Linked DNA regions of Homo sapiens: region 2 is linked to region 1. The links come from fine-mapping of genetic effects on plasma protein levels. Region 1 holds a variant in brackets. A gene starts in the other region. All regions are shown on their forward strands.

Region 1 (8,000 bases):
ATAGATAGGTGAAAGGGGGGTTCAGTAGTCCTCTAACTGGTTCAGGAAATCCTCCTGGACGTTGACCCCCGGCCACCTGCTCCCAGAAGTCCCATGTCCTTGTCCCTGCCCCTCCCTATCCTGGTCCTCTCCTAGCAGGTCTGCTTTCTGTGCTTTCTCTCCCTGCCCTCCTGCCTGTGCGTCCCCTCCATGAGGACCACCCTGGAATCTGACTAAACCTGTCCCCTGGGGTCGGGCGCAGTGGCTCACACCTGTAATCCCAGCACTTTGGGAGGCCAAGGTGGGCAGATCATGAGATCAGGAGATCAAGACCATCCTGGCCAACATGGTGAAACCCCACCCCGTCTCTACTAAAAATACAAAAATTAGCTGGGCATGGCAGCACATGCCTGTAACCCCACCTACTCGGGAGGCTGAGGCAGGAGAATCACTTGAACCAGGGAGTCAAGGGTTGCAGTGAGCTGAGATTGTGCCACTGCACTCCAGCCTGGCGAGAGAGCAAGACTCCGTCTCAAAAAAAAAAAAAAAAAAAACCTGTCCCCATTGACACCAATCTGCTGGCTTCTCAAAAGCAGCTTATCCAAACCCTAGCTCAAAAATCCACCCCCTCCTAAGAGAAAATATCTTAAAGACCTTGCGGTAGACAGAGAATTCTTAGAGATAACACACACAAACACTAACCAATAAAGGAAAAAAATGGGTAAGTTGGACTTTATTAAAAACTTCTGCTCATCAGAATACATAAGAAAATGAAAAGTTCACTGTATCATCCTGCCTCAAACCTGCTCTTCCTCCAAGATTCTCTACCTCAGATAATGAACCCTATCCCCAGCCCAGCTCCCAATACCAGACAAATTTTTCCCTCCCCTCCAACCAGGACCAGTTCTAGCAATTCCTTCAAGTTTGCCTCTCATTACCTCAACCCTCAGTCAAGGCCAAATGTAATGTTCTCCTACCTGGTCCTGCTTCTAAACTTCCTCTCTCTGGGGAATACTTATTGTCCTGCCAGGTTATCTTCCTAAACTATGTGTCCAATTCTCTTCCACCCCTGCTCTCCACTGGACAACGAAGCCTAAATTTCTCACTATGGCAGGAAGACCACTGAGGATGTGACCATCTTGCTTTCTAGTTCTGTCTCTTCTTGCCCATCCTCCCTAACCCCTGCACCCTAGTTACCAGATCTCTTACTACTCCCTAAACAACCCAGAAGTCATGCCTCCTTCTCTTTGCCCTCAGTAGTTCCTTTTCCTGAAATGCCTTCCTCCTCTTTAACACTTTTTTATTTGTTTGTTTATAATTTATTGAGATAGTATCTCACTCTGTCACCCAGGCTGGAGTCCAGTGGCATGATCATGGCTCACTGCAGCCTCGACCTCAGCCTCCTGAGTAGCTGGGACCATTGGTGCACAACACCATGCCCAGCTAATTAAATATTTTTTTTGTAGAGAGTGGGTCTGGCCATGTTGCCCAGGCTGCTCTTGAACTCCTGGGCTCAAGCAATCCTCCCACTTTGGTCTCCCAAAGTGCTGGGATTACACTGCACCCAGCCTCTTTTGCACTTACTGAAATTCTCAAAGGATGCCTGCCTCCTCCAGGAAGCTTTCCTGGAGTCCTCCAGAAGCTGCTCTCATGCTCCTTTATGCTTCATGTTGGGCTCTTTACACAGGAGCACAGAGCAAGCCCCACGCTCTGACTGCCACTGAGGCTTGTTGGAAACATTCCTGCCTCCTCCACTTGACAATGTGTGCCTCTGGGACAGGGACTATATCCAATTGGTCTCCCCCTACCCCGCCACTAGCATAGTATCATGTTTATTTACCAAGTACTGAATTACTAAGCAATCAGTAGTAAGTACTGAGGTCCATTAACTCCTTTAACGAGTGTACTGGCCTCTTAATAAAGCGGCAGAGGGCTCTGGCAGACCACCCCATATGTGAACATCCCACGGCCTCCCTGACAAGCAGTCTGGTTTTTAAAGCAGAGAGAACATTGGCTATTATATTTTCTGCTTTGTCAGCCCCATAGACAGTGCTATGGGAAAAACTTTGAGGCACTCTAGACTCCAAACTCCTAGAGGATTTCTTTGACCACCTCCCTTAGGACCCCACTCCATGCCCTTCCCCCACTGTCCCTGCCAAGCAGTCCTGTTCAGGTCAATGGCGGTACACTGCCTCTCCCTAGGCACCGCCTTCCCTGAGGCCCTTAGGCAGGGCTAGGGAGTTGCTTGCACAGTCCTTCCCTTAGTATTTCTAAAACAACCCTGCCCTGGCTACAGCACAATTCATTCATTTACCTACCAACCTCTCACAGGGGAGGGTAGAATTCTGACTTGCCTTTAAATTTGCTTCCTTAGTGTCTAGAAAATGTTGGAACATAGTAGACACCCAGACACACAAGGTGGTATCTTAAAGACTGAGCACACAGTATCTGCTCAGTAAAGGCTGGACAACCCTTTGGTTTTTTTTTTTTTTTTTTTTTTTTTGAGACAAGGTCTCGCTCTGTCGCCCAGGCTGGAGTGCAGTGGCGCAATCTTGACTCACTGCAACCTCCACCACCCTGGCTCAAACGATTCTTGTGCCTCAGCCTTCCAAGTAGCTGGGATTACAGGCATGTGCCACCACGCCCAGCTAATTTTTGTATTTTCAGTAGAGACGGCGTTTCACCATGTTAGCCAGACTGGTCTCGAATTCCTGGCCTCAAGAGATCCACCCGCCTTGGCCTCCCACAGTGTTGGGATTACAGGCGTGAGCCACTGTGCTGGGCCAAAGGTTTTTTTTTTAAAAAGAGTTTTTTGTTTTGTTTTTTTTTGTGAGACAGAGTCTGGCTCTGTCGCCCAGGCTGGAGTGCAGTGGTGCGATCTCGGCTCACTGCAAGCTCCGCCTCCCGGGTTCACGCCATTCTCCTGCCTCAGCCTCCCGAGTAGCTGGGAGGTGCCTGCCACCACGCCCGGCTAATTTTTTGTATTTTTAGTAGAGAGGGGGTTTCACCATGTTAGCCAGGATGGTCTCGATCTGCTGACCTCATGATACGCCTGCCTTCGCCTCCCAAAGTGCTGGGATTACAGGCGTGAGCCACCACCCCCGGCCAAAAAGAGTTTTTATAAGGATGCTTCACGTATGTGCCTTTAGAAGAGACGTATATGCGAGGTCTGAGAATTCACTCAAATATTTAATTTAGAATTTATGTACAAGGTAATCTAGGTAATAAAGAGAGTGCAGATCATGATTCCAGTCTCACCCCCCAACCTGCCGTGATGGAATTTTAGAATCTCTGGGGTCATCTCATCTATTTCTGTCGCATTATAAACCAGGAAACTAAAATGCCGAAAGCAGAAAGACCTCCTCACATCCATAGCTAAGGAGGGGCAGAAGCTGAGACGAGAAACCAGGCCTCCCAAATCTCATTCCAACATTTTCTTAATCCAGTTTCACAACATCATCCACATGGTCATGAAAAAACAGCAATTCAAGGGCAAGGGTTCAGGACCACATGAGTAGAGCAGGGAGGGGTGGTCGGGGAGGCTGAAAGGGACCTGAGCCTCCTGGCAAAGAGGCATGGGGAGCAGCCCCAACAACTGCAGGCCGGGGGCGGGAAGAGCATGCGGCAGGCTGGAAAGCCGGGCCAGCTCTCTCCCTCTCTTCTAAATGCATTCTTCAATTTCATGACAATTTCCAAGCCAGGAAACCAGGAAAACTGGGAGTGTAGGTTAGTCATTTGGGTACACAACAGAAGCAACACGAGATTTGGAGTCTAGTTTTGCCCATTGGGCCACTCCATCAGGATACCCATGTGGCCGCAACCTACTTACCTAGATAAATCTTAATTTTCTAATAGCAAAATACAGGTTAAAAAAATACTTCTGGCCGGGCGCGGTGGCTCATGCCTGTAATCCCAGCACTTTGGAGGCTGAGGCAGGTGGATCACCTGAGGTCAGGAGTTCAAGACCAGCCTGGCCAACATGGTGAAACCCCATCTCTCCTAAAAATACAAAAAATTAGCCGGGTGTGGTGGCAGGTGCCTGTAATCCTAGCTACTTGGGAGGCTGGGGCAGGAGAATCGCTTGAACCCAAGAGGCAGAGGTTGCAGTGAGCTGAGATCATGCCACTGCACTTCAGACTGGGTGACAGAGTAAGACTCCATCTCAAAAAAAAAAAAAAGACATTAAATGCAGATAATATGTTTTAGGATTGTGGTGAAAGCTAATGCTCCTGGCATAGTGCCTGATGTAAAGTAGGTGCTCAGTGAAGTTCAACACCCTTTCCCTGGTTCAGGCT[T/A]TGCTGTGGCCAGGAGTTGGCCCTGGGCCAGCAACTAGTCACCTACCCCACCCTGCCTCTTTTTTTCTCACCACTAAAAAGTAGGGGTTGTTCTAAGAGCTGTTCTCTCTGTGCCCCAGAAGTGAAGACTCTGGTGCGCAACCAACCCATCTACTTAAAGGACAATGGGGAGTCCCTCTGTGGCAACTTTAGTAGCCTATGGTAAAGGCCAGCCCTCGAAGTCACTACTGCTTACAGGCTGTCATGGGAGCCTCTAGAACTTGTTCAGCCTTGGGTAAAGTATACTTGCTGTGCCTACTCCAAACATCATCATCTCCTTCAAGGGTGATGTTATTTTTGAGGCCACGCTGCAAAAGGTCAGGTAGGGCAAATAAGTGAGGAATGTCTTCCAGTCCAAATGCTCTAAAACTGCTTCCCATACAGTTGGCTAATAATTTGTTTTGAGCCTTTACTGGTCTACTTTGCACTTCCATTTCTCCTGAACTAGACTAAAGCCCAGGAGATCACACCTTATTATCTCCTCCTTCCCATAGCCCCTAGCACAAGGCCCCTTTACTTAGTAGGTGCTGAGTGACTGCTTATTAAATGGAATATGACACAGCATGGGGGACCTTCTGGACATTCATGGCCTGCTCTCCTCAGGGCAGACAGGAAGCACAGTCTGTTGAGACTGCAGGGTTGTAAAGTCAGAGGAGGCAACATTTGCTAAGCTCATAGAAGCAGCAGCACAAATGGCCAATAAACATAGGAAAAGATGTTCAACCTTATTATCTGGGAAATGCCAATTAAAAGCATAACAAGATACTATTTTCCCACCCATTTGACTAGCAAAATATTGATGTTGGCAAAGGTCTTCTCATACCCTGTTCACAGAAGCATAAATTGGAGTGCCCTTTTTAGAGGGCAGTTTGGCAGATGTCATAAAATGTAAAATGCACATTCCCTTCAGCTAGGCCTTTTTCTTTCTAGGTATCTGTCTTAGAGAAACAGATGCACAAAGAGGTATGACTAAGGATGTTCACCGCTGCAATGCTAAACAGTAAAATATCATAAACAACATAAATGGCCACCAATAACAGAATGGCTAAATAAAACCATGGGAATCCACATGGTGGAATATAATAGTAATTACGTGGCTAGATTGCACAGACTTATTGGAAGTCAAAAACCAAGCTGTAAAATGAAACTACAGTGTGGTTCCATTTGTGTAAAAAGAACAGGAAAAAAAGAACCCCTGAAGCAAAATTATATATTTACACGCATACACACGGATAGGAAAAAATCATGACGTTACACCAAACTGATAGCATCAAGTATTTCTGGTGAAGGAATTAAATTTTCAGGCCAGGTGTGGTGGCTCATGCCTGTAATCCCAGTACTTTGGGAGGTGGAGGCAAAAGGACTGCTTGAGCCCAGGAGTTCAAAGCCAGCCTGGTCAACATAAGGAGACCCCCATCTCTACAAAAAATTTAAAAATTAGCCAAGTGTGGTGGCACATGCCTGTGGTCCCAGCTACTCAGGAGGCTTAGGTGGGAGGATCACCTGAGCCAAGAAGTTGAGGCTGCAGTGAGCCATGATCATGCCATTGTACTCCAGCCTGGCCAATGGAGCAGGACCCTGTCTCAAAATAAAATTTTGGGGTGGCAAGTTTGGGCGGACTTTTTCACAAGAATGTATTTGTGTAATACTTATGTAATTTAAAATACTTTCTAAAAAATTATAAAGTTCCTATTATATGCTAGCTCTGTGCTAGGAGCTTTAAATGTTGTGTGTTGTCCACACAACTCTGAGATAAGAATTGTTCATTCATTCAGCACACTTTCACCCTGCACCTCCCACATGCCAGCCCTGGGGGCAGGGGGTGCCCAGAATGCCTGTATTGAACGAGCTTAAATGCAGAAATGGGTAGAGGCAGAAAACAAGCTGGCGAGTGCTGCTGTCATGGAGATGCAGAGTACAGCCAAGTCCATCCACAGAGGAGGAACCTCAGCTGGGGTACAGGGTAAGTGATGCCTAAGGTCCCACACCCAGTAAGTGGGACCTTTCTTAAGGCAGTATTTGAACTTGCCTCCAAAGGTCGCAGTAAACAGCAGCCAACCCTTAAGGTCCATGAAGGCTCTGCTATCTGCTGGGCAGCCCTGGGCGGAGGGAGTGGGTTGTATCTCAGTGTGGCGAGGGAAGGGAGGAGAGACTATGATGTTCCAGTCACAGATGTTTCATTATCACTATTCAATATTATTAAGCATCTAATAAGTATAAGGATGCATGAGTCAAGGGTCCCTACCTTCAGGTCGGAAGCAGGAAAGAGACCAGATCCTAGAACAATAGGACATGGTACCCGCTGCCTAGACGGAATTTAGAATCCGGCTGGGGTGAAGAGATTAATGAGCGAGTCATGCCATCAATGTGCTGTAACTGAGTCCTAAAACCACCAGCCGCGACACAAACTGGAGTGAGTGGCTTCCCAGGCGAGATGACCGCCCAGCTACTGACCCTGGGTCTCTGTGCTCATCTGCCTTGCAGAGCTACAGGGAGGGCTAATGAAGCGAGAGGCCCTTCCTAACCCTCAAGCCCTCCATCAGAGTGCATTTTGCTCTGAGAATTAGAAGGAAGAGGAGCTAAGGGAGTGCCTTCCTTTGGGAGGAGGAACTGCCCTACCCTGCCCTCCCCACAGCCCTGGCCAGCTCTGCCAGGCCAAGGAAGGTTCTCCTCAGCTCAGAAGCCTGGTGAGAATGGCAGGAATACAGGATGGAGGAGACTCTGGCCCCCCTTTACCCATGGAGGCTGTCCATACCAGTCCCCATGCCATCCTCCAGGTACACCTGTCAGCACCCCTGGAAAAACCACCTCGAAATCAAGTGTGTGGGCCCTTGTCATGGTGGAAATCTAAGATCTCATGTTCCCAGAGAAGTGGTCCCACATTCACCTACCTCCCAACTGCTTAGCCAGCCAGCAGGTATTCACTGGGCCTGTTCTCCCTGCCCATTGCATTAGGCCAGACAGAGGAAGATGTGATCAACACATAAGAAACAGTGAAAAATACCCTGATGAAATATGATTGAGTGCTAAGTAATATTAACCGTAAGGACAGTCTGAGTGCAGTGGCTCATGCCTGTAATTCCAGTACTTTGGGAGGCCAAAGCAGGCGGATCACTTGGGGTCAGGAGTTCGAGACCAGCCAGGTCAACATAGCAAAACCCCATCTCTACTTAAAATATAAAAATTAGCTGGGTGTGGTGGTGCGTGCCTGTAATTCCAGCTACTGGGAAGGCTGAGGCGAGGCACGAGAATCACTTGAACCTGGGAGGTGGAGGTTGCAGTGAGCCAAGAGACTGCACCACTGCACCCCAGCCTGGGAGACAGAGTGAAACTGTCTCAGACAAACAAACAAACCCCAGTGAGGGTTACAGGGATTCAGGGAAGGGAAGAGGTCATTGTGGACTGGAGAAATCTTGGAAACCTTCCTGGAGGAGGCAGCAGCTCTTGGCCTCAACCCTGAAGAATGGACTGGGGAAATCACAGCAGGAACGATGACAGGAAGGAAGGAAGGAGCATGGCAATGTCCCTTCCTAGGGGACACCCTTCTATTAGAGGACTGTAGTGAAAGTGGGGTGGGCTGATTGTGGAGGTCGAAGGGTTGAAGACTTGAGAAATAGCCAGAGGGTATCTGACATGATGGGGGAGACAATGGGGAGCCATTGGAGGTTCTATGGCAGGGTGTGATCA
Region 2 (12,800 bases), not on the chromosome of region 1:
TGTTTTAAACCACCGTGTCTGTAGTAATTTGTTACAGCAGCCTAGAAAACTAATACAGAAGGGATGCATCATCAGTGCCGGTGGTTTCACCATCAAGAGCTATAATCCAAGATTCCCATGGGGTGTGGGGGCACCAAGGGGAAACTTCCCTTTTGCCCTCTGAAGTTTCACTGAAAAATCTCAGAGAAGAGGCATATAAATAGGAGAAAAAGCATACAGATGTATTTAATGTGTGTACATGGGAGCCTACAGAGTGAATACCCAAAGAGACGAGGGAACTTGTCCACTTTGATGCTTAGGTTCAGCAAAGTGTGGACAGCCGTGTAGATACAGAATTGAACAAAAAGCGTATGATCTAATGCTCTACCGACTGAGCTATCCAGGCTCCCTAAGGGTATGATCTAATGCTAACGGACTGAGTGGGGAAACCTAGCAAGGCCCGTCTGTCTAGATTCTTCCTGGCCTCTCTGTGCTGCATTCCTTCCTTCTGGGTGTAGGACAGGACTCTCGCTGGAATGGGAGTCTTATGACCTACATACAGTCAAACAAGGCCTGTCTGGCTAGATTCTTCTAGGTATCCTGGGTTCTAGATTCTTCTTGGTATCCCAGGTTCTAGATTCTTTTTGGCCTCTCTGTGCTGCATTCCTTCCTTCTGGGGGTAGGACGGGGCTCTCTCTGGAATGGGAGTCTTACAACCTACATAGAGTCAAACAAAGCCGAAACCAAGAAAATTTCTTTATGGCCAGTTTTTATACAGAAAGGTGGAGGGAAACTTAGAGTAGAGTAATATAATTAGGTTTTATGGCTGACTTTGGGGGAAAAGGGTTCTGTTTCTACCTGCCTTGGAGAAGAGGGATTCCAGTTTCTATGGCTAATCTTGGGGGAGCATGGGACTGAGAGACTTGAGGGCAGAAGGTTAGAGAAAAATGGTTGCTTCTGAGGCTACTGTGGAGGACTTTATTTGGGGTATCATTTTCTAAGCCTCAACAGGGAATTTAGGAAAGAGCCATTGACATGGATGCATTCTATGTGCAGATCACATGAAGCTAGAAGGGTTAGTCCAATTGGGCAATGGGTTCTGGACCACTGACAGGGGAGCTCTATATGAATGAAGTGGATAGATCTGAATATCAGGTCCCCCTCTTGGGAACCTAAGACCCAACTGGAAAGGGCCAGAATGATGTGGCTTAGCAGCATCAAGACAAAAAAATAGCCCTGGGATTTTTTCAACAACAAGAAGTTCAGGATGAGTCAACCTTTAGGCCACCCTAGGCTACAGCATGACAGTGGTTGTCAAGGTAGTGTGACTATAGGTGACTTTTTTTCTTTTCCTAATTTTCCAGAATTCCTCTAATGTAGTTCGGAGGCTTTGATTGTTATAATAAAGGTTAAATTTGGTATCAGGGACCTCACTCTGCTAGACCCCAGACTGATTAGTTCCTTCATAGAGTGTTGGGTTCAGTGGACACCACACTTCAATGGAAACTGATCAGGCACCTTGGAATCCTATACATAAGGGGGAACAGAGAGCTGGGCTGCCCCTTGAAGAGAGCTTACGTGTCTCAAGTAATGCTTAGGAGAAGAACTAGGTCGGATATTCAAGATGCTAAGTTTCAGCTCTGAGCACCATGGTTCTTCTCTCCCTTCTCAAAGTGAGGTTCATGAACCCCTAAGGATCCCTGAAACCCTTTCAGTGGTCCACGAGTTCAAAATTATTTGCATATAAACATAAAGATACAATTTGCCTTTTTCACTGACATAATTTGCCTGGAGCAAAAGCAATGATGAGTAAAACCACTTGTGCCTTCACATGAATCAAAGCCTTGGCGCCAGGCTGGGCACGGTGGCTCACGCCTGTAATCCCAACACTTTGGGAGGCTGTGGCAGGCAGTTCATTTGAGGCCAGGAGTTTGAGATCAGTCTGGCCAACATGGCTAAACTCTGTCTCTACTAAATATACAAAAATTAGCCAGGCATGGTTGCACGTGCCTGTAATCCCAGCTTCTCAGAAAGCTGAGGCAGGAGAATCATTAAAACCTGGGAGGTGGAGGTTTCAGTGAGCCAAGATCACGCCACTGCACTCCAGACTGGGCTACAGAGTGACACCTTGCCAAAAAAAAAAAAAAAAAAAAAAAAAATAGCAGTGGCATCAAGCTGCAGTAGTAGCTGTTGGAGTTTTTCATCCTGATGCATTCAGAGGATGCGTTCTTTTATTTAAGAATGTCCTCAATGAAGCAGTTAAAATTATTAATATTATTAAAGCACAATCTTTATTCTATGTGACAAATAAGAAGTAAGCAAAAAGCACTCCTGCTGAATACTACAGTATGAAGGTAGCTCTGGGAAAAAAAGCACTTGTGCTATTTTTGGATTTGCCAGCTGAACTAGACGTTTTCCCCCATGGAACACCATTTTTACTTGAAACTATGGTTATTCAGACTTAAAAATTTGGCAGACAATTGTTTGAAAATGAATAAAGTGAGCCTGTCACTTGAAAGAAAGAGACAGTATTTGTTGCCATTGATGAAATCAGAGCTTTTAAGTAAAAATTCAAATGTTAGAAAACCCGTGTCATGATCTTGACATCTTTCCAATACTCAAAGTTCTCTGATGGGATCAGAGATGATATCAATGAATGTGATTTTTGATACTGTGTAACGAAATATGTCAACATTTGGAAGATCTGAATAACTTCTGCATCTGTGAACCAGTATGTTCTACAATAACTGAGGCATGTTATTACAAAATCATGCCTGGATAAGAGATCCATTCAAAGTACAAGATAGAACAATGGATTTTAAAAATGGACTGTAGAACAGTATGTTCCACAATGACTGAGACATATTTTTACAAAATCATGCACGGATAAGAGATCCATTCAAAGTACAAGATAGAACAATGGACTTGAAAAATATATAAAAGGTCTTTGATATGATTTCAGATTTCACATTGGAGCTAACCTTTGGAAACTATCACTTGCCAACTTTTCAATATCAGAAAAGAATATCTACAATTATTTTTAAAATCCTATTAAAATACTCCTCCTTTTATCTACTCCATATTGTGAGACCAGATTTTTTCCCATATACTTCAATCTAAATAACATATCTCCACAAATTAAATGAAGAAGCAGATATGAAAATCCAGGTGGCTTCTACAAAGCTGGATGTTCAAGACATTTGCAAAAATATAAAACAATAATATCCCAATAATTTTATTTTATTTTTTTAGACGGAGCCTCGCTCTGTCACCCAGGCTAGAGTGCACTGGCACCATCTCGGCTCACCGCAACTTCTGCAGCCTGGGTTCAAGCCATTCTCCTGCCTCAGCCTCCCAAGTAGGTGGGATTACAGGCACCCACCACCACACCTGGCTAATTTTTGTATTTTTAGTAGGGAAGGGGTTTCACCATATTGGCCAGGCTGGTCTTGAACTCCTGACCTCAGGTGATCAGCTCCCCTCGACCTCCCAAATTGTTGGGATTACAGGAGTGAGCCACCATGCCCGGCCCCCAATAATTTTGTGGGGTTTGGGATATACAGTAATTTTTCACAGAAAGTGTTACTTATATTGACATGTAATGAGTTTGCTGTTTATATTTTAAAATGTATTAAATAAATATTTTAAATGTCTCAGTTTTTTGTTTAAACTTTTTTAATTTTTAATTTTTATGGGTATATAGTAGGTGTGTGTATGTATACATACGTTTATGGAGTATGTGAGTTTTTTTTGTTTTTTTTTGTTTTTTTTGAGACAGAGTCTCACTGTCACCCAGGCTGGAGTGCAGTGGCACTATTTCGGCTCACTGCAACCTCCACCTCCCAGGTTCAAGTGATTCTTCTGCCTCAGCCTCCCGAGTAGCTGGAATTACAGGTGCGCACTATTACGCCTGGATAATTTTTTTTTTGTATTTTTAGTAGAGATGGGGTTTCACCATGTCGGTCAGGCTTGTCTTGAACCCCTGAGCTTGGGCAATCCACCCGCCTCGGCCTCCCAAAGTGCTGGGATTACAGGCATGAGCCACTGCCCCCGGCCTACATGAGATATTTTGATACAAGTATATAATGTGTAATAATCACATCAGGGTAAATGGTGTGTCCATCACCTCAAGCATTTATCCTTTCTTTGTGTTAGAAACTATCCAATTATAAGCTTTTAGCTGTTTTTAAATGTACAATAAATTATTGTAGACTGTAATTATCCTGTTGTGCTATCAAATACTAAATCTTATTCATTCTATATATTTTTGTACCCATTAACCATCCCCACTCCCCCATCCCCACTACCCTTCCCAGCCTCTGGTACCCATGATTGTACTCTCCATCTTCCGGAGTTCTCAGTTTTAACTTTTAATACGATAAATATCAGTAGATATTACCCACATGAACAAAAGTTCTATGGGGTCCTCCATAATTTTTAAGAATATAAAGGGGTCTTCTGACCAAAAAATTTGAGAACTGCTGCCCTCTGTATGCTAAAAGGTAAGAAATAAGCTCCAAAAAGATTTTGGTGGCTGCCACATTGGGAAAGATTTTAAGGGTCCCAAGGTCTGGGGCATGTTGGGACATTATCTCTAGGGTAAAGAACAAGCCTTTGTAACTTGCATCCCCCATCAGTAAGAACAAGGCACAGCACAGGGTGGGTACTTCTGGATTTTAAAGCATCCTGGGGAATTCTGTCGGACCATTTATCATGTGACTTGAGGGGCTGCTAGTGCCGAGGGAGGCCCAGCACGAGAGAAGGCTCTGTGGCAGGTCCAGGCAATGGTGCAAGCTGCTGTGACGCCCTACGACAATCGTGTTCAGTCATATCAGAGATGCCACATGGATAAGGATGCCATATGGAGTCTCTGGAAGGCTCCAAAAAAGAGAATTTTGCAGCACAAACCTCTAGGGTGCTGAACCAAAGCCATGGCTCCTGCAGTAGAGAAATGCTTGTCACTTGAAAATCATATCCTAGGGTGCTACTGGGCCCTGATAGAGACTTGTGCCTGAAGATGGGTCACCAACAACTAGGGGACCACAAGACCCCATCACACACCAGGCTATAAGATCTGGGGAGAGGGGCAGCAGCTGTACAATTGCTTCAAACCCAAACAGAACCAGAAGGTACAAGTAAGTTACATGGACAGATGGCACCTGCCTCTTTTGCATCCATATTTCTCTCTGTCTCTCTTTTTTCCTGAGACTGAGTCTCGTTCTGTTGCCCAAGTTGGAGTGCAGTGGTGTGATCTCAGCTCACTGCAACCTCTGCCTCCCGGGTTCAAGCAATTCTCTGCCTCAGCCTCCCAAGTAGCTGGGATTACAGGTGCCTGCCACCACACCTGGCTAATTTTTTTTTTTTTTTTATTTTTAGTAGAGACGGGGTTTCACCATCTTGCCGAGGCTGATCTCGAACTCCTGACCTCATGATCCACCCACCTCGGCCTCCCAAAGTGCTGGGATGACAGGTGTGAACCCCCACGCCGGCCCCATATTTCTCTTTTAACTCACATCTATGGCCTTGAGAAAGCTCTTTCTGATAGAAGTGGAAAACTTCAGACCTGGTTCACAAATGGGGCAGCACAATCGGTTGTTACTAGCCAGAAATGGACAGAAGCTATACTATAACCTCACTCAGAGGTGGCTCTGAAGAACAATGGTAAAGGGAAATACTGGCAGTAGGCAGAGATGGGATAGTACCTTTGGTCATTCGTGGACTGTATATGGAAACAAGTGGAGGTATAGATATACATGGACTCCTGGGCAGGGGCCTGGAAGGAACAAGACTGGAAAATCAGAGGCAAGGATATCTGGGGTAGAGGCATGTGGATGGACACGATGTATGTTAATGTCCAGTAGAGAAGCTCTACCACAGGGAGGCCTACGACTATCAAGAGGACATTAGCCAGCTTCTCTCCATTGGCCACATCAGTGCTGGTGCAATGGGTGGTAGGAATGGAGACCACACATGGACAGATAGTTATGAGAACCATTTCAGAAGTCTGAGATCGAGTACTAGTTGTCCATAGTGTGGCCAAATCAATGAGGCATCCTTTTATTGACTTTCCTTCTTTTCCTATTTCTCTTCTCTTTGTTCCTCAACCTGTTCCCTCGGATCGCATTCCCAAATAACCTGTCGCAAACAAGCCCTTGTTCCAGGCTCCATTTGAGGGGGAAGAGGCTAAGTTAAGCTACTACCCATTTACAATTGTAACCCCTGTTCACACTCCTAGCCTCTCTTACACGGCTCTGTTTCTTTTTTTCCATATAACCTATTTATTATGTCTATTGTTGATTATGTTTCTCTCCCACTAAAATATAAGCTCTGTAAAAACAGGGATATTTGTCTGTTTTGGTCCGTGTAGTGTCCCCAGCACCTAGAACACAGATAAAGTTGTGTTGAATGAGTGACTAAGTGATTAGAGCTAATGTATGTACATTTAGATGCTAAATATTTAGAACATGGTAGAAAATTCTGGGCCTCAGGAAACACAAGGTTTGGCTGTAGCTGGTTTGGAGACTGTGGTCAGGACTGAGAAATTTCGGGATTCAAGAGACTAAGGAGTGGGTTTGGCTTGGCCCAGGAGCAGGGCTGGTCCAAAATTTAGAGTCTCGTAGAACCAGAGCCTTTCCTGCCCGTGGTGCCATGTTTCAGCCAAAGCCTTTATGCTTGTACCACAACCCACCCCTGTGGTTAAGAGCCCAGGGTCTTCATCCAAACAGACCTGAGTTCAGAGCCTACCCCTACTACTTCTTAGTTGTGGGATCTTGAGCAAACTACCTCTCTAACTTCAGTGTCATTATCTGCAAGGCTGTGCTAAGGACACATTCTACTTGGTTGAGTTGTAATGAGAACTGAGGGTTAAGGTTCCATATAAAGTGTCTGGCACAATAGGAAGTGCTCACTAAGTACCCGTCAGCATTAAACTTTCCCACGTGCCACATGGTGAGGGTGGCGGCCTTTCAGTTCTAGGTCCTCTCTTCCTTCTGGTGGGAGAGTCGGGCTTCCCTCAGTAATGTTGCTTATTCCAATTTGTTGGGTGAAGGTCAGAAGAGAGATACAGTCTGGATGAAAAACTCCTGAGTTCTCCACAGGGTGCAGAGCCACTGGGTGTCCCTTGCAAATTGAGTTCACAAGGTCCTGCTCCAAGAGTTCTAAATAAAAATGAGCTCATTGATTTGGACACCCAGCTGGGTGCACCTTTCAGCTTCATTTTTGAAACTTCGAGTCTGTGAAACATGGGCTGCCTGGGGTGTATCATGTCAATCCAGCCCCAGCAACACTCACATCATGCTGTCTTGCCTCTACTTACCCTGTGCCCTGTCAAGAGCACCCTTCCCGCCACCCTACACCTGAGCTACCTGCTGAAACCTACCAACGCTTCTGTTTGTCCTATTCTCCCTTTCATTTCTTTCTTTTCGTTTCCTGCCCTCTTTGGCTTTACAGCAGGCTTCTCTCCCCAACAAGTTCCATTTTATTGTTCAACTAGTTTAACATGCATGTTTAATTGAACAAGGTCAAATGCTAGTCAATATTTTGCCCTCCCACCAAATAATAGACCTTTCCCACTCTGATCACTCCTCACCAATTTGTTATTGTTTTATGGTTCTTTAGTTTTATCTCATTTTTTTTTTCTTTTTTAATTTTTTTTTCTTTTTTTTTTTGAGACAGAGTCTCGCTCTGTCGCCCAGGCTGGAGTGCAGTGGTGCAGTCTTGGCTCGCTGCAACCTCCACCTCCCAGTTTCAAGTGATTCTCCTGCCTCAGCCTCCTGCATAGCTGGGACTACAGATGCGAGCCACCACGCCTGGCTAATTTTTGTATTTTTAGTAGAGATGGGGTTTAGCCGTTTTGGCCAAGCTGTTCTCAAACTCATGACCTCAAGTGATCCAACCACCTCAGCCTCCCAAAGTGCTGGGATTACAGGCATGAGCCACCATGTCCAGCCTATTTCATTTTTTTCTAACTCCACAAAGTGGACATTTTTGTAATTATTTTATGCTATCAGTGCTTATTAAATCCACTTCTGTGTTTACATATTTCTTTGCTCACCATTCTTACTTGAATCTTAGACTTTTTTTTCTGAGATTATTTTTCTTGTTTTTGAAGAACATCCTTTAGAATTCCCTTAGGTGAGAGTCTGTTAGCTATAAATGCTCTCAATTTTCATCTGAAAATGTGTCTTTTAAACCTTATACTTGAAAGATAGTCAAGGTTGACAGTTATTTTTTTATTAGTACTTTGAGATGTTGTTCCATCGCCTTCTGGCTTTAGTTATTGGTATTGACATATTAGCTGCCCATCTACTTCATCATTCATCCATCTTCTGTCTAGTGATCAGCAGTTTTGCTACCAAAAATGTTTGGTGTAGATTTCTTTTTATTTATCATGCTTGGGTTGGGGGAGCTTCCAGAATCTGAGGATTGTGTCTTTCATCAAGTCTAGAAATTTTCCATTTTCTTCTAGAACTCTAATTAGACATATTTAAATCCTTGTTCCTTGTCTATGTCTCTTAGCCTCTTTCATATTTTCCACCACTTTGTCCTCCTGTGCTCCATCCTGGGTAAATTCTTCAAATCTATTGTTCACCCCAGTAGTTGTCTCTTCAGCCATATTAATCTGCTGTTTATTTTTATGTATGTATTTATTTATTTATTTTTGAGACAGAGTCTCACTCTCACCCAGGCCGGAGTGCAGTGGCACAATCTCGACTCACTGCAATCTCTGCCTCCTGGGTTCAAGCAATTCTTGTGCTACAGCCTCCTGAGTAGCTGGGACTACAGGCATGTGCCACCTCACCTGGCTAATTTTTGTATTTTTAATAGAGACAGGGTTTCACTGTGTTAGCCAGGCTAGTCTTGAACTCCTGGCCTCAAGCCATCAGACTGCCTTAGCTTCCCAAAGTGCTGAGCCTTAATCTACTGTTTAATCTGTACACTGGGCTTCTATTTTCAAAAATTATGTTTTTACATAACTGCTTGCTTTTTTTCCCTCAATCTTCCTGGTCACTTTAAATAGTCTCTTGTTCCTTATCTATACTTTCAATTACCAACTTTTAATTCTTGAAGCATATGAAACATCCTTATTTTATATTATATATACTGCAATTCCAACATCTGAGATGTGTTCGAAGGTCTGCATTTTTAGTTTATTGCTTGGTGCTCCTCTCACCTAAAGCACCTTGTGTCCTGTGTTTTATGATTTTTCTGTTTTACAAACATGTGAACTCATGTTCCATGGGAGTTTTTCTGTGGGATTTCTTTGAGTCATGAATATAGGATGAGTTACTCCAGAGACAATTTTTATCATTTGTTTCTGCCACGTGCCTAAGGAGCTATTATTTACCTTACTTTAAATTCTTATCTTATCTTTTTGTTTGTTTGTTTTTTGTGTGGTTGTTTTTGCCACAAAGTCACCATGAGTTTCACCTCCAGGCCTATTAGTGGGTAGACTTGTGGTGAGGGGCATTCAGGGTTGACATTTATTTTTCTCCCACTCAGAGTCCATACTGAGTTGGGCAAGCTCTGTGTCAGCTCGCTTTAAGGAATTTTTCTCTCCGAGTTCTCCACTGTGGATGTTGTATTTCAGTGCTCTTTGTTTAAGGCAGAAATTTTGGATTTTGTTTTTCACTTCGATTTTGTTTCTCAGCTTTAACTTTTGTCCATGTTCATAAGACTGAAGCTCTTGGTCAACTGGATCAACAGATACTTCTCTGCTGGCTGTGATCTCTTTGGATTTTTGTTGTCTTTATATATTAACATATACAAGGTCTCACTCTGTTGCCCAGGCTGGAGTACAGCAGTGCAATCTTGGCTTATTAAAGCCTTGACCTCCTGGGCTCAAGCGATCCTCCCACCTCAGCCTCCTGAGTAGCTGAGACCGCAGGTGTGTGCCACCAAACCTGGCTAATTTTTTGCACCTTTTGCAGAGAGAGGGTTTCACCATGTTGCCCAGGCTTATTGTCGTTTTTGATCTCTGATGATTTTCTTCATTTCTCACCACCTCAGCTACACATTTTAAAAGATGGTTTACAATATTTTTGTGGTGTTTTGTATTAGGAGAATTCTTCAGCATCTGCTGTCTACCATATTGTCAGAAATGGAGTCTAGCCATCCTTCCCGGCCCATTTCAAACGGGTTCCTCTTAGGACCAGGAGACCTCACATTATGTGTGTCCTACCTTGGCCTGTGGTTTGGTCACTTGTGTGTGTGTGAACTTCATCCTCCTTGAGGGCAGGAATATGGTTTCCTCTCTTTCACTTCCACAGAGTCCTGTCCAGAGTTCTGCACACCAAGACTGTGTAAATGAATGGAATTGCATCTGGGAGCTCGAGGCACCCATGCAAACCTGTGCTGCCAGTGACTTCCACCAGAGGGCAGCGGCAGCAGGTGCCGGCGCTGGGGCAGGACTGGGAGGAGTCTCACTCTGGGGGCGCCTGGTTCCCCGTGGCTCTAATACTTGCCGCATCAAATGCATACACCCACATTTAGGACCGAACCCAATGGAGGAGGACCGCTCCTCATTCCACATGTTGGGGAAATGAAGACAAGCAAGGATGCAGGAAGTGGAGGGCCAGGAGAGGTGGACCTGGGATGGGACCAATTGAGGCAGGGCCAGGATTTGGAACCAAACCCCTTCTGGATTTGACCACTTCCAGGGCCCTGCTTGGACAACCAAATTATCTATTCCTTTTCTCATTCAATAAACATTTATTCACCTCCTACCATATGCTCCACAGGGAGTACCATGGGAATTAAACACGCTTGGCCCCTGCCTTCTTCCTATAGCGTCAGTCTGCTGCAGTGCAATGGGGCAACTCGGGGTTTCTCAGGCAGCCCTGGGCTTCCTTCCTTCAGCCCTTTGCTCCTGCTATTCCTTCTGGCCCAGAGGCCTCCCATGATTGCTGTTTGTCAAAATCCTGCTCAGCCTTGTAGACCCAGCTCCCATGCCTGACTCCCACGGAGGCATGCCCAGTCTGGTACCTGGAGATGGGATAGCTGGCCCCACTGTGCCATCTGACGGGGCGGCTCCCACAAGGCCTTGGCACCCTTCCCTGTAGAAGGACTTGTGGGATGGCCATCTCTCAGGCCCTTCCCAATTTATATTTCTCTGAGGGGAGACTTAGGCTCTTATCTCCAAAAGTGCATCAAGACCACACCCTCCTTCCCAACCACCATTGCACCTAAGGTTAAGATAAAACTCAGGATTTAATCCAAGAGAGCCAAATTACACGGACCGGGACAGGCAATGGGTCATTCACTCCCTCTTCCAATATGTACTGATTGAGCAGCTACTACATTATCAATTTTTTCTTCTGGGCCACCAGAAATGAGGCATGGCTCTTCCACTTCCCTTCTTCTTAGAAGACCCTCGGGGAAGTGTGTCTGCATGGATGCGTGTGCATGCGTGTGTCTGGCTCCGTGACTCTTGGGGTGCAGCCTGGATGGGTGGGCTCCCAGCACAGGCAGCTGGGGCTCTCCCCACCAGCCCCTGTAACAGCAGCCCAGCTTCCTGCAGACCAAAACCACAAGCAGAACAAGCAGGCGTGAGACACTCACAGGTTGGGTTTGATCGCATGCGTGTCGGAGAGGAGAGAGCAGAGAGAGACACAGGAACAAGAACAGCAAAGGGTAGAGCAGACCTGCGCCAGGGGCGCACAACGGCCGTGTCCACCTCCCGGCCCCAAGATGGTGCTTCCCACAGGCAGCCACGCGTAGCAGCCAGAGACAGCTCCAGACATGTGGCTCTTCTTCGGGATCACTGGATTGCTGACGGCAGCCCTCTCAGGTAGGCCCCCTTCCCTCATCTCCTGCCACTGGTGCTGGAGGAGCCGGGTCCGGCCCTCTCAGTCCCCTTTCTGGTTGTTTCCTTGTGGTCACTTTTCTAGGATCTTTTAGCCAAGACTACACTCAGGTACCAGGGAGGTCCAGCATCTGGGGCTAGGAGAGGACACAGGAGCCCCTCGAGGGGCTGGGGCTGTGCCTGGAAGCCTCCTGGAGTGACAGAATGTGGGAAGCATGCTTTGTGCCTTACCAATGGGTCCCTAGGGTGTGAGGAGGGAGGTGCCTCTCCCATCCTTAAGCTCAGGAACTCCCCCATTTCCTATTTCTTGCCAACTCTTAAGAAGGAACCGTTCACCTTCCAGAGAGGCAGGACCACTGATGGTGGTACTTTCAACGCCAAAGCTGAGGCTTGGGGTCCAGCAGGCGTAGGCCAATCACAGGAGAGCACCTCCCGAAACAGGACTCAGGGAAGCCAGGGAGAGTTCTGGACAACCAGGCGCTGATGGCCTCAGCACAACCAGCTGGGGTAGTCTAGGGCATAAGCGAGCATGAAGGCCACCCCCACGTCTCAAGCTGCCCCCAAGTGTCAAGGCACCTGGCCACCTGGGCCAGGGAATCAGATGGCCAGAAGGTTTGGGGCACTAGACTGTGCTCCCCAGATACTTGCTGGCCCCTGTTGAGTGCAGGGTCCAAGCTGGCCAGAGCGGGGCAGGGGCCTGGAGATGCAAGAGATCCTGACCCCATCGAGCTCTCACATTTTGGGATTTGGGAAGACTGGTATGGAAACAGAATTCGGGCCAGGGGAGTCTGGGTCCACCTTGCAGCCAGAGAGCCAAGTGCTTTCATTTTGTGATGGAGGAGACCCAGGAAGACCCAGTCAGGAGGGGGCATCGAGCTGGTTTGGAGGACTGGGTACATGTCGCGAGACTCTGGGCAGGGAGTGCTCTCCTCTCTGCCTTGATCTCCAGGCATGTGTTCCGAGCCTGTGGCCTCATACTGGTTCAGGGAAAGCCATTCGGCTCTGGGAACTGGAGTTT

Direction of the effects. Alleles are on the strand shown, and positions count from the first base shown. The strength of an association depends on the size of the effect and on how common the allele is.
For the plasma level of the protein whose gene starts at base 11,533 in region 2, allele T in region 1 goes with a lower level than allele A (weak association).

The links. PIP is the posterior inclusion probability: the model's chance that the variant is causal. The UK Biobank Pharma Proteomics Project read protein levels with antibody pairs (Olink). The fine-mapping took linkage between variants from a reference panel, not from the people measured, so its PIPs are less certain.
Region 2: CD6 starts here. The variant in region 1 is fine-mapped to the plasma level of the CD6 protein (UK Biobank, PIP 0.98).

The regions. Positions count from the first base shown.
Region 1 is chr2:25,261,676-25,269,675 of GRCh38, forward strand. The region is part of intron 6 of DNMT3A (DNA methyltransferase 3 alpha); the gene reads right to left. Among named protein-coding and RNA genes, the nearest start is that of LINC01381, 61 kb to the left of the region's middle. RefSeq lists enhancers at 2,325-2,908, 2,909-3,493. The variant T/A (reference allele first, on the strand shown) is at 4,275.
Region 2 is chr11:60,960,148-60,972,947 of GRCh38, forward strand. CD6 (CD6 molecule) reads left to right here and starts at 11,533. Exons shown (of 13, transcript NM_006725.5): 1 at 11,533-11,767. The coding sequence starts at 11,719.